Regions from separate parts of the Homo sapiens genome. Here region 2 is reported to be linked to region 1. Evidence: microRNA targets listed by miRTarBase, many of them from high-throughput screens and not tested one by one. Region 1 holds a microRNA gene; the other region holds the end of a gene's coding sequence.
The links. The annotated mature microRNA hsa-miR-128-2-5p reads GGGGGCCGAUACACUGUACGAGA and lies in region 1 at 1,253-1,275, opposite strand. An mRNA with a match to its seed (bases 2 to 7 or 8) in the 3' UTR can be bound and repressed. Matches are read on the target gene's strand: a 7mer-m8 pairs with bases 2 to 8, a 7mer-A1 pairs with bases 2 to 7 and ends in A, and an 8mer does both.

Region 2: miRTarBase lists WFIKKN2 as a target of hsa-miR-128-2-5p. Seed matches in the 3' UTR shown: 7mer-A1 at 2,492-2,498.

Annotation. Positions count from the first base shown.
Region 1 is chr3:35,742,573-35,745,764 of GRCh38, reverse strand. MIR128-2 (microRNA 128-2) reads right to left here and starts at 1,289; the gene lies at 1,206-1,289. It overlaps ARPP21 (cAMP regulated phosphoprotein 21), which reads right to left. Exons shown (of 21, transcript NM_001385562.1): 19 at 1,800-1,926.
Region 2 is chr17:50,840,807-50,843,806 of GRCh38, reverse strand. WFIKKN2 (WAP, follistatin/kazal, immunoglobulin, kunitz and netrin domain containing 2) reads right to left here. Exons shown (of 2, transcript NM_175575.6): 2 at 1,454-3,000. The coding sequence ends at 2,788. Among named protein-coding and RNA genes, the nearest start is that of WFIKKN2, 6.7 kb to the right of the region's middle.

The sequences.
Region 1 (3,192 bases):
AGAGTAAAAAATGCCTCATATATTGTCTCTTGTTTTGACATCCACTAACAAAGTTAGTGAAGAGGAGAAAAAGCAATGGAGAAGTCAGTGGGGGAGGCCTAAACTTTTTTGAAATCTAATTCTGTTGCCCAGTTATCATATTCATCTAACTTTCTCATCCCCTCACATAGATCTAGAGTTTATGGGTTTAGTGGATTGCAGCATGTTTTGTAACTGCGTTTCTTTGTATGATGACACTCTACCACAAGACTGAAATAATCTCTTTAAAAATTGCCACACAATGGCACCAAACCTAATAAAAATCATTATAATTAGATATCTGCATCTTTTTTCTTCTAAAGGCATTAGTAACCAAGTAGAAAACTTGCACATAGCCTCTAAACCAAGATCCTCAAGATTGTAAATTAACCCTTTAATTAACGTTAGCATAAAATAAGATAGTCCAGAATGCAAGCAACACATTTCTACAGCATGTATCTAAACTGATAGCACCGTTACCACCAAAATGATAAAGGTAATAACGTTTTCCACAAATTAGAGAAAATATTGCCAAGTGATTTTTTAAAAATAAATAGTTATTTGAAACCCTTTAGTGTTCTCAAAACACTGTAAAAGTCTAAAGTCAATTCAGAGGTCAAATATATTCTTCCCCAAACTAATACAGTGCTGAAACAAGACAAAATCTGGCTGGAAGATATAGGTTTCTCTAATTCTTCTCCCACAGACTTTAAATAGGCCATGAGATAAACCAAAGAACATGTAACCATCCACAATACGGGGGAATTTAATTCTTTCTCCAATCTGACAGGATGCTAGCAGTGTCAGCATTGGTATTCTTAGGATGTCTGTGATTGGTGCTAATCCTTGGCAAGAACTGCACTTTTCTCATAGGTTATAAAAATGGTACATATTGTGTATATATTACATACATGTATCTGTATACATTCCATATGCATAACATAGATTCAGTGCAGAAATCAGATCACGGAGCAGGCATCTATGAGTAGCAGCAAGGAGCACGTGCTCTTTACATGACCTACTTACAGAAGGCAGAGTCTCCCCGTCAGGCAGTCTTCAGCATGACAATTAGCAGTTTTTCCTGCAGTTTGGTCAGCAGGAATGACACAAACCTCTCCCTAGCACAAGCCACTCAGCCCTGTCGGGTTCGTGCTGCTCTTTGGATAACGGCATTCCATTAGGAGTGTGACACAGTAGGGAAAGAGACCGGTTCACTGTGAGACCTGCTACTCACTCTCGTACAGTGTATCGGCCCCCCTTCCCACTGCACAGTGGCTGCCGGGCTCTGGGCAGGAGGCATGTGGCCATCATGAAAGTGAACCATGGAGTCAGAGTTCCACCGAGACACGCTGGATTGTCAATAGCCTTCTTCTAAAGGCAGTATCTTTTAGCACGATATTGAAACAACCTAATTTGGTTCCCTAGCCTTAAGAACAGAGGAAGCACTCTCTTCAAATTGAAAAGAAAAAAAAAATTAAAAGAAGGTATGAACTAGAAAGGTACGGACATGGTTGACTTTCTGCTTTAACAGAAGAAGGATCAAAAAATAATTTATGGAGACTGTTTAACATGCATGCCAGGGATGCTAGTCTGACATATGCTTCACCTTCTTGTACCTACTACTTTTCCACACAGAGTCAATCAAATGCTTTGTTATCTTCTCTGGGTAGAGAAAATGTGCTGGTTTAAATTGCCAAGCTTGGACACTCATCCAAAGAGTACAAGATTCACCAGCAAAAATAACTGGGTTGAGAAGCAAATGGGAAACAGATTCCAAGTACCTGCTTGCTGTGCTGCCTGTGGCATCTGTTGACTCCTCTGAGCGTTGTACTGAACCGGGGCCATGGGCCGGTACTGTTGCGTGGTTGAGGTAGGGTACTGACCAGATGGGTAATAATATACAGGCATCTGTGGAAGAAAGGAGGAAGAAAGCAGAGAATGAAAATGTAGATAATGTAAATTTTTAAACTTAAAATATGCTTTCGTCTTATAATTGTGGTAGGTTGTGAAGATGGCCACCGCAAACTTCTCCCATGCCTATGTGTATGTGCATGCTACTTCTCCCGTAAAGAGGCAAAATCCATTTCCCAAACTTAAATCTGAGCTGGTTCTGTGACTTTCTTTTACCAACGCCATGAGGCAGAAATGATGTCTGAGTCTTTCAAGTCTGATCCTAAAGAAGACTTGCAGCTTCCACGTCTGTAGGCGGGGAACCCAGCCAAGAGATAAAGAAGTCTAGACTATTCTGCTGCAGAAAAAGGCCATGTGGGGAACACAGGTACCCCCAATTGACTGGTTACCCTCCAGTTCCAGGCATGTAAGTGTAGCCCTAGTCAAGCCACCCCAGCCATATGGAGCAGAGATGAGCCATCTGTGATAAATCCTGCTCAATTGCTGACCTAGTCGTGATCATACAATGGTTGTTTTAAAACAAGACTTTTGTGTTTTTTAGATGAAACAAGAGAGAGTGAAACAGTTATCATCAACAACGAAAACCTACATTTTAAATATTATATCTAACTTGAATTGCTTTTCTAATGGAAACAGGGGTGAAACATGAAAACTGCTGATCTGTAGCCTAAAAGGAGCAGAGAATGCAATCATGAAATATGGTAGTCTATCAAAGCACATTGCAGAATGATTGGTACACACCACTATTCAAAAAAGTATGTTCAATCTAAAAGGGAAAATATGATAAAAATGTTGTTTATGCTACCTTCTTAACTTTCTTATGACTGAGAATGAATAAAATTATTCTGATTATTTGATTATGATCCAAATCAAATGTTTCCTGATCTGATAGACTTCTTTGCCTGCCTCAGTTCATTTATATTAAGGTCACTTTCTTACTGATCTTAGTTAATTATTTTCTATCTCTGGGCTTCTGAGTTTTCGCCTATCATATTCTCTAAAATAACAACTGAAGTACCCTAGTAGACCGCCTACAAACATTATATACATAGGATAAAATTACAAGTCAATTATTTGAGAACTGTGATTTTCATGGTTATTTTGTTTTCTGATTTGCTCAGGTCTAATAGGAAACACTTTTCTATTTCAATATTGCTGTTGAAACATATGTAACATATTTTGCTGCCTGAGGATAAAGTGGGAACAAAATATAACTTAATCTGTGTGAACCTGTAGCTCTGCAATTTCATGGAATCATGATGA
Region 2 (3,000 bases), not on the chromosome of region 1:
CTGTTCTGAGCTGAGAGCTGCCGAGGGTGGGAGGGGGCAGGGGGCAGCCACTCGGCGCCAGGTCCTCCTTCCTGGGCTTTCCAGTTGTACCCGGTTAATAGGGCCCAGCTCCCAAGCCTCTTGTAGAGTGATCTTACTACCCTCTGTTTTACAGATGAGGAAACAGAGACTCAGAGAGATTGCAGGTAAGCAGCAGAGCCCAGATTCAGACCTAGGCAAGTCTGACTTCACGGGCTGAGTTTTCTCGCTCTGCCAGGTGGGGCTGGAGTGTGACAGGGATCCCAGGTCTGGGGCTGTATGTGGGCAGTGGTCTGGTGAGAGGGAGCCCCACAGTGGGATTTTCCTGAACCTCACACCTTCATCAGGGAAGCAGACGTGCGACTGGGGGCCCTGCTGTCCCGGCCCAGCCGCACGTTCAGGTCCCGTATCTGTGCAAATGGGGTTGAAAAGGGAGGTGACAGGTGCTGGCATGTGGACAATTGCCCCCACAGCTTGCATGGTAATGTGCTAGAGCTCGAGCTGGAAGCAGGTGCACAGAATGTCCCTGGGCCTCTGAGGACAGGGTGAGACCATCCTCACCCTCCTTGGTTACCTGACCTGAGCAGGGTGGGGACCCGTGGCTGCTGCTCACACCACTTTGGTGGCTAAGTTTTGTGCTCAGTGTTCTCCCGATGTCAACTTGAGAAACCCTGGATCCTCTGCCTCTGTTCTTCCTGCTCCCGACCTCCTCCTCACGCCCTTATTGCAGATGAGATGGGCTGGGCCAGGCTAGGCTGGGCCTGGATTCTTCTTTTGGGTTGGGGCCCGGGAAAACACAGGCAACTGTGCAGGGAAGTGGTGTCTCTTGGGGACAAACAGGCTGTGGGGTGTGCCATGGCTGAACACGTCTCCATGCCTCGGGAGCTGCTGTGGGCCTTCCTGGGGCCAAAGGCACTGCTGTCCCCATTCTGGGAACCAAGCCCCACACCCTGACCTTACCTAGGGCTTTGACACAGTCTTCCTGGGACCAGGCCTCACCTAGAGGCCCCCTAGTGAGTCACAGCTGGCAGCTGTCCTTGCCTGCTCCGTTCCCATCTCCTCCACCTTCTTGCCTCTGAACTTGACACCATTGGTGGAAGGGTCTGGACACTGCACCTGACCAACTGTGCTGTCACGCTGGGGTGAGAGCAGGTTACAGATCAGAACACCTGGGCTGGGCCACCCACCCCTTCCTGCCTTTGTGTTCTTGGCAAGTCACCTCACCTCTCTGACCTCAGCTTAACTCACGGAGCTGAGCTGAGCATCAGTTAAGGGGCCTTGGAGCTGCAAAAGGGGCCCACATATTACCAGCATCTCTCCATCCCCCAAAGATGCTCCCAGTGGCCAGACTTCCCTCTTGTAAGGTCACCAAAGCAAATGACACTACCCACCTCCCTCCCTCCCCCATCATAACCCAAACGAATCACACAAGAAGGGCAGTTGATACTATGAGCTTTTAATTGGTATCTTCCTCCTTATATTTGAGGAAGAAATGAGGACGCCCCACAAGGACCTTCTTCAGCTTGGAGGGGCAGGGACAGAATAGGGCAGAGGAGGGTAGTGGGGGCAGATGCAGAGCTGACAGTGGGGTTTCCCAATCCTCTCTCTAGCGGCCGGAGGGCCAGGATCACACAGGAAGCCTGGAAACACAAAAAAATCATCGACGAGCTGCCCCATCCTTTGCCCAGGTCTCACAAAGAGCCTCCTTCCAGGTTCCCGTGGGTTCCTGAGGCCGCCACCAGATGGGAGCATCGAGCAATGTTCCTTTTCCTTCTCCAGCCACCTCCCTCCTCTCTCAGTCCTTTACTACCCCCTTCCCTGCCTGCTTTTTCATCTTCCTTCATTTCTCCTGCTACCAAACAGATCCCGGGGCTTTTGTCTGATCTATGTCCAAGGAAGCCAGTGGCATATGAAAGCACACCATCCATCAGACAGAAACTCCAGACAGTTGTGAGTCCAGCGGAGGGGTGTGTCTGGGGGCCCTGGGATGAGGGTATCTGTGTTGGGGCTCTAAGAACTGGGCAGTGACTAACATCTCTCTGTGGTCCTGGCACCCAGTAAGCATTCAGAGAACATCCACTGAGTTGAACTGAACTAGATCGACAAACCAGTGCAGCCAAGGAGAAGAAATACGTATTCTGCTGGTGCCGTGGTGGCCTCAGAGGCAAGCCGACCACCACCCAAAGGCACCCGTTTCAGCAGCTTCCATTCAGGGCAAGTCATATGCTGGGCTGGACTCTGCCGCCAGCTTGCTATTGCCCATGCCCCTAACTCCGAGTGGCCTCTGCTCACAGCAATCGAGGAGGCTGTGGGAAAGGTGTCCCATGAGTCCCTGGGCCCTCCTATCTCTCCCCACCTACCCCCTTTGCAAGCCAATCCATTCAACACTTCCTGTGACCAGCACACAGCGGCCATCTCTTAAACCCTTGCTGGGAGACTGGCTAGGGGAGGGTGACTGGGAGAGCCAGGGGTGTGGGGCCAGTGAGGGGAGGAGGAGAATATCTGAGCAAGCTGGTGGTCACGAGTAACTTCCATGTGTCCACTGACTTCTCCTCTTGTCCCCCTCAGCTAAAAAAGATATGAACCCCTTATTGAACCCAAAGAATAGATGCTGATCTGAGACCTTCTGTGGCTTTTTCTGTGACACGTCGGTTGATGTTTCCCTGCTGTCCCAAGCCTGTCTAATCTGACCTCGCCCAGTTTGCTGAGAGGCATTGGGGTGGATAGGTGGAAGAAGGCCAGGGAGGGGGCAGGGAGGGGTGGGGGGCTTCAGTGCAAGCCAAGAAACTCCTTGAGGACGTCACAGGTCTTCTTGTGCATGACCTCACGAAGCTTCCTGACCCGGCGGGCACTCGATGCGCCCACAAAGCTATCGGGGCGCAGCATGGCCATGCCGCCGTCCACCTCCCCCATGATGATGAGCGGCATCTCGCTCACGGTCACGTTGGGGCAGGGGCATGCCCAGTCCACGTGAAGCAGAGT